Linked DNA regions of Homo sapiens: region 2 is linked to region 1. A link means that fine-mapping ties the variant in region 1 to the plasma level of a protein whose gene starts in the linked region. Region 1 holds a variant in brackets. A gene starts in the other region. All regions are shown on their reverse strands.

Region 1 (5,373 bases):
CTTCAATTCTCATCCAACCAATGGCCTACTCTTTCTTTCTCTTTATTTTCTTAACAGTGTATTTTTATTCCAAACAATATCCGATTTATAGAAAATTTGAAACCATAGAACAAAAGACTTTTTTCTCCTCATCTCTTTGAGAATAAGTTACCAACATGGTGTCCGTGGCCCCTAAATACTTTAGCATTTTCTTATAAACAAGGACACTCTTCCTACCGAAATCAGGAAGTTAACACTGATGCATTGTTACAGTATAATTCTCAAACTCATTCAGGTTTCACAAACTGTCCCAGTAGTGTCTTTATAGCAAATGAGTGCAATTCAGAATCATGCGTTACATTTATTTGTCATAGCTCTTTTAGTCTCCTTCAAATGAGAAAGATTCCTCAGTTTTTTTCTTGACTCTTGTGACTCTTGACTCTTTTGCAGTTACAGACTAATTGTTTTATATAATATCTCTCAGCTTGGGTCTGTCTCATGTTTTCTAATGATTAAATGCAGGTTATGTATCTTTGACAGAAATACAAAAGAGGTCATGTGTTCTTCTCATTGGATCCACACTTCAATATGTCCTATTACTAATGATGTTAACTTTGATCATTTCATTAAGGTGGCATCTACTGTGCTTCTTGGCTGTGAAGTTACTCGCTTTTCCTTTGTAACAAAAAGATGTTTTGTAAGGAAGAACTTTGATAATATGTAAATTTTCCATTCCTCTTCAAAATTAATCCTTATATCACTTTATATCAATAGGGACTCATGAATTATAAATTATTCAATGGGCATATTACTATCAATGGGTTATATTACTATCATTATTAAGTTTGATGTTCAGATTGTCTCAGATTTGGCCAGCAGGAAATTTCAGGCTGGTTTCAGTGTCCTTCTTTGAGTACTTTCTTACTTTCTGACACCAGAAGCTATCCCAGACTCATCTTTTACTTTTCATTTATTAACTCCTAGAATCAACCATTTCTCTTAAGGGGTCTTGGTTCCTGTTAAGTGAAGAATGATATTTAGAAAGCAGGATTGGGGCCAGGGATGGTGGCTCATGCCTGTAATCCCAGCACTTTGGGAAGCCGAGGCGGGTGGAACACCTGAGGTCAGGAGTTTGAGACCAGCCTGGCCAACATGGTGAAACTCCGTCTCTACTAAAAAATACAAAAATTAGCCAGGAGTGGTGGTGGGCACTTGTAATCCCAGCTACTCGGGAGGCTAAGGCAGGAGAATCGCTTGAACCCGGGAGGTGGAGTTTGCAGTGAGCCAAGATCACACCATTGCACTCCAGCCTGGGTGACAGAGTGAGACTCTGTCTCAAAAACAAAAAAAAACCACACACACAAAAAACAGAAACCATGGCTGGGCACAGTGGCTCATGCCTGTAATCCCAGCACTTTGGAAGGCCGAGGAGGGCGGATCACGAGGTGAAGAGATCGAGACCATCTGGCCAACATGGTAAAACCCCGTCTCTACTAAAATTACAAAAATTAGCTGGGCATGGTGGTGCGCTTCTGTAGTCCCAGCTACTCAGGAGGCTAAGGCAGGAGAATCGCTTGAACCCAGGAGGCGGAGCTTGCAGTGTGCCGACATTGTGCCACTGTACTCCAGCCTGGCGACAAAGTGAGACTCCGTCTCAAAAAAAAAAAAAAAAAAAAAAAAAAACAGAAAGAGAAACCAGACTTGGGACCAGGCACAGTGGCTTATGTCTGTAATCCCACCACTTTGGGAGGCTGAGATGGGAGGACTGCTTGAGGCCAGGAGTTCAAGACCAACTTGGCCAACATAACAAGTCTCCATCTCTGTTTTTTGAGACAGGTTCTTGCTCTGTCACCCAGGCTGGAGTGCAATGGCATGATCTCCACTCACTGCAACTTCCACCTCCTGGGATCAAGTTATTCTCCTGCTTCAGCCTCCCGATTAGCTGGGATTACAAGCACGTGCCAGCACTCCCAGCTAATTTTTTGTATTTTTAGTAGAGACGGGGTTTCACCATGTTGGCCAGGCTGGTCTCGAACTCCTGACCTCGTGATCTGCCCACCTTGGCCTCCCAAAGTGCTGGGATTACAGGCATGAGCCACCATGCCCAGCCTGACTCCATCTCTATTTTTTAAAAATAAAATAAATAGAAACCAGTATTGGGCATCATTGATCTCAGGCCCTCTCAGGGCACAGAAGTAGGGAATATAAGGATGTGTGTACACACATACACAAAATCATACATGCATTTACCCTTATATTTCTCTACATACGTAATAAAATATGGATCTTATTAGTTTGTTTATTGAAAACCATGACTTCATACCAATACTTCTCATTCCAACCTAACACAGTTTTCATTCTAGTTTTCTGTCCATAATTTATTTTTTTGAGATGGGGTCTTGCTCAGTTGCCCAGGCTGTAGTACAGCCTCAATCTCCTGGGCTCAAGTGATTCTCACACCTCAGCCTCTTTCCTTGAGATGGCATACAGGTGCATGCCACCACACCTGGCTAATGTTTTCTTAATTTCTGTGGAGACGGGATCTCGCTATGTTGACCAGGCTGGTCTCAAACTCCTGGCCTCAAACAATCCTTCTGCCTCAGCCTCTTAATGTGGTGGGATTACAGGAATGATTTGTTAACTGTCTTCTCCAACAGCGAGAAACTTTGCTCCCATTATCCTTAATATTGTACATTTACATACATGTCCTTGGAGATACCTTTCTCTCCCCACTGGGACTCCAACACCCTGTGGCAGACTGCCTCTCTGCCGGGACACCCCTCACCACAATTGGGTTCTGACACTCTGGCCTGGACTTGCCCCTGAATGTATGCTTTCTGATCCTGGTCAGGTTCCGGCCACCACAGCTCACCTCCACCCCACTCATAGCTGCCTATCTTGCTCGACCCTGCACCTGATGACTTTTGCACCTGATTTTTCAAGGAAGGAAAAGAGGAACTATATAGCTTTTCTCTTATTACTTTTAAGCACTTCCATTTCATTTATACTTGGTCATTCAGAAATTAAGAGTTATTTCTACCATGCACTATTCTTAAACTCTGTGATGCCTTTAAAGAGTGCCTCTTCAGTGAGACTGGGTCTATGCTGAGAGTAGAGGTCCTGCCTCCTCCCCCTTTTTCCTGTCCACCACATTCCTCTGTCTGCCCAGAGTAGGGAAGGCTGCAAACC[C/T]TCCCCCCGCCTTCCTCCTAGGAGGTCGCTGCCTGAAAGCTCTGTCCTGCCCGGAGGAAACCAGCTCAGCCTCCAGCTCTGGCCTGGCCTGATAGTCTGCCAGTAGCCAGGCCAGCTCTATCAGTTCTGTGCACGGGGATGCCCTGCGCGGAGGGGAGGGAGGAGGGGGAGAAAGAGTTGCCCGTGGGGCCTCAGGCCTTTGCTGTGCCTCAGTTCCCACACCTCAGAAGAATAAAGTACTCAACCCAGAAGAAAGACTCGGGCTTCCAGACTTTGGTTTGTGAGAGCAACGACATTCAAGGGTTACTCACGTAGACATTTAACAACCCGTAAAGGGAACTGGATGACAGAAATTACAGGATGGCTCCACCCTCGCGAAATGACATATTCATTTGAATGCTTGGGTAATTTCACAACAGGCAGTGCTGGTGGGGAGCAGGTTTTCCTCACTGAAGATGGAAATAAGGGTAATTGCTAATTTCCTTCCCCTGACCTTCATGACCTGCCCAGCTGTCTGCTGCCACCAGCCTCCTTCCACGGCTTTTCTTGTCTAAGGCTTCATGCCTTAAGAAATCAATTTACTCAGCTTTGTTCTGGGCCAGGTGAGAAAAAAAAATCAATGTATTCATACAAGTGGGACAATTGCAAACAAACGGAGTAAGAAAAAATAAATTCAGTTATGTAGTATTTGAGGCTTGAATTCGAGTAAATCAACCAAACTTCCTCCTCGCTTCAGGTAAAAGCATTTGTTGTTGACACAGCGCCACCTGATGGCAACTGGAATCTTGGCAGGAAATAGTCACCTGTCATTCCAACGTTATGCTGCTCATTTCACCTTTTTGTGTGTGTGTGTGTGTGATGGAGTCTCGCTCTGTCGCCAAGGCTGGAGTGCAGTGGCATGATCTCGGCTCCCTGCAACCACCGCCTCCCGGGTTCAAGCGAGTCTCCTGCCTCAGGTTCCTGAGTATCTGGGACTACAGGCGTGTGCCACCACGCCCAGCTAATTTTTTGTATTTATAGTAGAGACGGGGTTTCACCGTGTTAGCCAGGGTGGTCTCGGTCTCCTGACCTCGTGGTCTGCCCGCTTCAGCCTCCCAAAGTGCTGAAATTACAAGCGTGAGCCACCGTGCCCAGCCATCATTTCACACTTTTTTATTTTTAAATTTCAGTTCCCTTTCAAGCTCTAGACTCTTTCATTCAGAGTCCATTCTCTGTGTGCTTATGGTAGATGCTAAAGGTCTAAGAAAATATGACCACTTCCTGTCTAGTGTGGTGGCTCTCAAACTTGACCTTGCTCAGTTGCTCAGGCTGGAGTGCAGTGGTGCAATCTCGGTTCACTGCAGCCTTGACCTCGTGGGCTCAGGTAATCCTCCTGCCTCAGCCTCCCAGGTAGTTGGGACCACAGGCGGGAGCCACTATGCCTGGCTAATTTTTGTTTTGTTTTTGTTTCGTAGAGACAGGGTTTCGTCATGTTACACATACTGGTGTTGAACCCCCGGACTCAAGCAATCTGCCCGTATAGGCCTCCCAAAGTGCTGGGATTGCAGGCATGAGCCATCGCCCCTGGCTGAGAAAGTTTTAAAATGCAGACTCCTAGGCTCTGCCCTGCAAAGACTCGGAGTTGGTGGGTCTGGGGTATGTCCCAGGAGCTTGTGTTTAAACTCCTCAGGTGATTCTGAAACAAAGAGTTCACAAATAACATGTTGAGAGGAACTAAAGATGGAGAAGCAGACTGGAATTTGCAGTCTGGAATTGTTACTGCAATGTAATCTGGCAAATGCCACAAAGTATGAACAGGTCTGCTAGGGACACAGAGAAGGGATGCCTAATCAGACTAAGGAAAAGAATAGAGAAGGCTTCCCAGAAGGTAAGACTCTAGATGAATAAAAGTTGGTGAGATGAAGAAGGGGAGCAGGGGAATCATACATAGGGCATAAAATATGGAAGTTAAGAGGGCATGAAACTCCATGGGCCCTGAGAGCAGTGTGGGAGGCTGGAAGGAAGGAGAATGTGGCAGTGTCAGAAAATGAAGGGCCTGGGGCCAGGGACAGTGGCTCACATCTGTAATCCCAGCACTTTGGGAGGCCAAGGCAGGAGGATTACCTTGAGGTCAGGAGTTTCAAGACCAGCCTGGCCAACACGGCAAAACTCTGTCTCTACTAAAAATACAAAAATTAGCCAGGTGTGGTGGTGGGCGCCTGTAAT
Region 2 (5,373 bases), not on the chromosome of region 1:
AAATAATCTTATGAAACCTTTTTTGATTGAAGCTATTCAAAATAAAAATTTTAATGAATGAAATAACACTTTTTTTCTGTGTCTTTATTCATTTGTTTGCTTTTTAGTGACATGAATACTGCCCTTTGTGGATTTATTTTCCTGCCTAATAATACTTCCCCATTTCCTTCTTTTTTTTTTTTAAAAAAAACTGGATTTTGAAGGAAATAAGAACAACATTCTGCATATCATGCCATGTGTGTGAGCATCCTGGGGAAACCCCACAGTCGGATGCAGTGTAGAGCCAAATGTTAAATGCGAGGAGGTCTGAGGGCAATGGTGAAATGAAATAGAAGAGTAGGGACTTATAATCTATTAATAGTTGGGAGAATCAAACCAAAAGCTAATACCATGGAGAGAGAAAATGGTTGTAAAAATCCCAGAGAAGACAGGACCTTTGTGTGTGGGTGGGAGTTGTTTCCATGGAGCTCAGCTCCGGGAGACACGGAGCCCCTGCTAGGGAATATGTGGCTGGCTGTGGTGTGATGAATTCGGGGGGTGAGGGCCTGCCTGCCTTTAGCTCAAGTTCTTAACAGTCGCTATGGTTTGTGCGGCATGTGTGATCCTGTCCCCACAGCCTGCTGGTGTGGGCACAGTTCTGCATGTCTCTCCTTCCGCTGTATCACTGCCAAGGGACAGGGAGTCCTAGGGGCTTGAGTGAGACTGTCCGTGGTCCAAGTTGGGGTGTGGTTGCTCCCTGCTGTGCCCGGCCCACTGAGTCTCCCTCAGAGGAAAAAGGCTTATCTCACCCAGGCACAGACCTGCTTTTGAATAGCCAAGCCCCTTAAGCCAGGTAACTGTTTTACAGCAGACTTCTGACCTGGTAATGGATACAGAATCTTAAGACTTGGAAGCACTGGAGCTGTCAACTTCCTTGCTCCAAATACTTCTCATTACCTCATCAACTTGCTCAGTGGATGGACTAAGAGTGTTCCCCCACTCTGCAACTGCCATACCTACTTTTCCCTTCCTGGACAATCAAAGTGTCTTCCTAAGGGACAAAATGTAGAGGCCATTCTGACTGGAGGTTTTCCTGGGGAAATAGGCTAAAGAAGGGCCACAGGAATTTGAGCCATCGGCATCTTACTCTGTTTCACAGCTCGCCTTCCCAGTCTGTCATGTTGGCTCCCTGGCAATTTCATGGGCAAGGGGGCGGGGAGGCTTTCACTCGATGTGCCTATGCATGACGGACTTACCAGGTCACCAGTGTAGCAGTTCAGGGCTCTGGAGTTGCATTCCTTGATCGGAACTGAAAGACCTCCCGCGATACCTGGCAGAGGCAGTGGCTCTTCCCTGTGGTCCAGGGCTGCGTGACTTTGAAGGTAATTTCAGTCAACCCAGCCTTTACTGGGCTCTGACTGCATTAGGCTGCATCAAAGGGGATTGGATCCCATGATTCTTTATATCTTCTGACATTAAGCCTTTGTCAGCTATAGGTGTTACAAATATCTTTAGTTTGTGGTTTATCTTTTCCCCTTTTTTATGGTGTCTTGAAGGATAGAAGTCTTTTTTTTTTTTTTTTTTTTTTTTATTGATCATTCTTGGGTGTTTCTCGCAGAGGGGGATTTGGCAGGGTCATAGGACAACAGTGGAGGGAAGGTCAGCAGATAAACAAGTGAACAAAGGTCTCTGGTTTTCCTAGGCAGAGGACCCTGCGGCCTTCCGCAGTGTTTGTGTCCCTGGGTACTTGAGATTAGGGAGTGGTGATGACTCTTAACGAGCATGCTGCCTTCAAGCATCTGTTTAACAAAGCACATCTTGCACCGCCCTTAATCCATTTAACCCTGAGTGGACACAGCACATGTTTCAGAGAGCACAGGGTTGGGGATAAGGTCACAGATCAACAGGATCCCAAGGCAGAAGAATTTTTCTTAGTACAGAACAAAATGAAAAGTCTCCCATGTCTACTTCTATCCACACAGACCCGGCAACCATCCGATTTCTCAATTTTTTCCCCACCCTTCCCGCCTTTCTATTCCACAAAACTGCCATTGTCATCATGGCCCATCCCCAATGAGCCGCTAGGCACACCTCCCAGACGGGGTCGTGGCCGGGCAGAGGGGCTCCTCACTTCCCAGTAGGGGCGGCCGGGCAGAAGCGCCCCCCACCTCCCGGATGGGGCGGCTGGCCGGGCAGAGGGGTCCTCACTTCCCAGTAGGGGCGGCCGGGCAGAGGCGCCCCTCACCTCCCGGATGGGGCGGCCGGCCGGGCGGGGGGCTGACCCCCCCACCTCCCTCCCGGACAGGGCGGCTGGCCGGAAGTCTTAATGCAGACAGCATTATCAGTGTGTTCAAAAGACACGTAGACACGTTTTGCCTATAGACAAATGGGCAAAAGGAAACCCAGCTTTCTCAAATGAAGCACAAGTGGGCCTTAATTATGTGAAAAGGTGTTCAAGTTCATCATTAAACAGGGAAAGGAAAAGTTAAAATCATGCTGAGATATCTTTCATAGAAATGGCAAAAAGCAGGAAGTGCCACGTGTGGGCAGAGAGGAAGCACAGGAACTCTCACAAATGGCAGGTGTCATCGTAGACCAACACAACCACTTTGGAGAGCAGTTTGACTTTCCCCAGTTAAACTGAACATGTGAGCGGCCGGGCGTGGTGGCTCATGCCTGTAATCCCAGCAGTTTGGGAGGCCGAGGCGGGCGGATTGCCTGAGCTCAGGAGTTCAAGACCAGCCAGGGCAACACGGTAAAACCCCGTCTCTACTAAAATACAAAAAATTAGCTGGGCGTGATGGTGTGTGCCTGTAATCCCAGCTACTTGTGAGGCCGAGGCAGGAGAATTGCTTGAACCAGGGAGCAGGAGGTTGCAGTGAGCCGAGATCGCACCACTGCACCCCAGCCTGGGCGACAGAGTCCCCCTCCCCCACCAAAAAAACAACAAGTGAGCATCCTGCAACCTAGCAATGCCATTGTTGAACAAGTTCAAAGATGTTCTTAGCCTTATTAGTCCCAAAAGGAAGAAAAAAATGGAGGATTTGAGAATGTTCTTAGCTTTATTGCTAAGCGGAGAAAGAAAAACAACACATACCAAAAAAAAAAAAAAAAAAAAAAAAAAAAAAAAAAAAAACCTGGGTGGGAAATTAGGGCCATGTGGCATGAAAAGGAAGACCCAGGGGAAGTGTGGCCCATCTAGGGGTGTGGCTACTGCAGTGATCCAGCTGTATCACTGAACTTCCCTGGCATCATAGAGTTATATTGTGCCATTTATGGAAAAACTCTCCCCACTGCTCTTGGCTTTGACAGTAGGAATCAGGTTATATATGGTCTCTCGGTTTGAAGATATTTGTCATTAAAAACCAGAACAAGGGCTCTGAGATAGGGTCCTTTCCTGACCTACTCTGGTAAAGTCTTTATCCTCAGGATGCAAGGATACCACCCTCTTCCTGTGGAAAGTGTCGAATCACATGCAGAGCTCTAAGTCTTTCAGTTACTTTGGAGTGCAGAACCATTTCAGGTAAGGCCAAATATTTTAAACATTAGTATAGGAAATTAGAGGGCTCTTTAGTCTGTGTGTGCATGAGAAGTAAAATTGCACGAGAAGCAATTTATGTAAAATTTCGCTTAGGAAACATTGTTTTGGCAGGTTAGTAGTATGGTGTGCATTTCCCAGAAAATTCAGTGCCGTGAGTATTACCTTTAGTTAAGCATCTTAGAAATAGTAGCTCTTTATGGCTAAGTCAGAAATACTACCCTCAAATTCTATGTGACCCTAGTTATACTGTTGAGCCTTTCTGTGCCTCTGTGCCTTCATCCTTGAATCGGGGATAATATACTTACCTCCTAAGGTTATTGTAAGGATTAAATGCATGTAGTATAAATAAAGAGCTGAGAACAATGCATGGCGTAAAGTGATAGGTATTATTATATGCTTTTGTTGGCTGTTGATTGAAGGTGTTCGCTGTTTTGGGGGTGTCCTTTAATAGAGTAACTTGGTACTGTGGAAATAGCATGATTGTGAGCAAAAGAATCAGATGGTGGTGGCTGCAGACTTTGCTGTTCCCTTCTTGACTGTTGGTTATAGCCAATGCAGGGTAAGTTATAAAGTCAAGAGCAGAGCCGTTTTCACAATGGACATTGCTTTGTGATGTCTGTGAGCTTGAATGTGAGAATGATTATTTTAATTCTCTATGTAAGGACTTTAAAGTATTGGCTATTCGGTAGCTTGAAAACTCTGTAATCTCAATGCTTTAAACTGAGAGTGGAAAATCAATAAAGCAAAAGCATGAGGCCACGCAGTGTAGAATGAGTGTCTTTTCACCACGTAGGGAAATCTGTAGTCCTAAGAAAAGAGGGAGTGAGAATTCTGGCGAAAGGATTGTGCCTCTGCACAAAGTGCAGGATCCCAGGGTTCAGTACAGGCGCGAACGCTCCTGTGTGTTGACCACACTCCCACGGTTGCTTTTTCAGACATGCTGAGGGGGACTCTACTGTGCGCGGTGCTCGGGCTTCTGCGCGCCCAGCCCTTCCCCTGTCCGCCAGCTTGCAAGTGTGTCTTCCGGGACGCCGCGCAGTGCTCGGGGGGCGACGTGGCGCGCATCTCCGCGCTAGGCCTGCCCACCAACCTCACGCACATCCTGCTCTTCGGAATGGGCCGCGGCGTCCTGCAGAGCCAGAGCTTCAGCGGCATGACCGTCCTGCAGCGCCTCATGATCTCCGACAGCCACATTTCCGCCGTTGCCCCCGGCACCTTCAGTGACCTGATAAAACTGAAAACCCTGAGGCTGTCGCGCAACAAAATCACGCATCTTCCAGGTGCGCTGCTGGATAAGATGGTGCTCCTGGAGCAGTTGTTTTTGGACCACAATGCGCTAAGGGGCATTGACCAAAACATGTTTCAGAAACTGGTTAACCTGCAGGAGCTCGCTCTGAACCAGAATCAGCTCGATTTCCTTCCTGCCAGTCTCTTCACGAATCTGGAGAACCTGAAGTTGTTGGATTTATCGGGAAACAACCTGACCCACCTGCCCAAGGGGTTGCTTGGAGCACAGGCTAAGCTCGAGAGACTTCTGCTCCACTCGAACCGCCTTGTGTCTCTGGATTCGGGGCTGTTGAACAGCCTGGGCGCCCTGACGGAGCTGCAGTTCCACCGAAATCACATCCGTTCCATCGCACCCGGGGCCTTCGACCGGCTCCCAAACCTCAGTTCTTTGACGCTTTCGAGAAACCACCTTGCGTTTCTCCCCTCTGCGCTCTTTCTTCATTCGCACAATCTGACTCTGTTGACTCTGTTCGAGAACCCGCTGGCAGAGCTCCCGGGGGTGCTCTTCGGGGAGATGGGGGGCCTGCAGGAGCTGTGGCTGAACCGCACCCAGCTGCGCACCCTGC

Alleles and levels. Positions count from the first base shown, and alleles are read on the strand shown. Strength reflects both the effect of a copy and how common the allele is.
As copies of T replace C in region 1, the plasma level of the protein whose gene starts at base 3,474 in region 2 goes up (weak association).

The links. PIP is the chance, under the fine-mapping model, that this variant and not a neighbour inherited with it causes the effect. Protein levels are from antibody-based Olink assays in UK Biobank. Linkage for the fine-mapping came from a reference panel and not from the study's own genotypes, which makes the PIPs less certain.
Region 2: it holds the start of GP5, and the variant in region 1 is fine-mapped to the plasma level of the GP5 protein (UK Biobank, PIP above 0.99).

Annotation. Positions count from the first base shown.
Region 1 is chr9:4,761,287-4,766,659 of GRCh38, reverse strand. No RefSeq gene overlaps it. Among named protein-coding and RNA genes, the nearest start is that of AK3, 23 kb to the right of the region's middle. RefSeq lists an enhancer at 2,793-3,731. The variant C/T (reference allele first, on the strand shown) is at 3,169.
Region 2 is chr3:194,397,367-194,402,739 of GRCh38, reverse strand. GP5 (glycoprotein V platelet) reads left to right here and starts at 3,474. Exons shown (of 2, transcript NM_004488.2): 1 at 3,474-3,502; 2 at 4,456-5,373. The coding sequence starts at 4,458. It overlaps ATP13A3 (ATPase 13A3), which reads left to right. Exons shown (of 34, transcript NM_001367549.1): 34 at 1-63. RefSeq lists enhancers at 1,538-2,090, 2,091-2,644.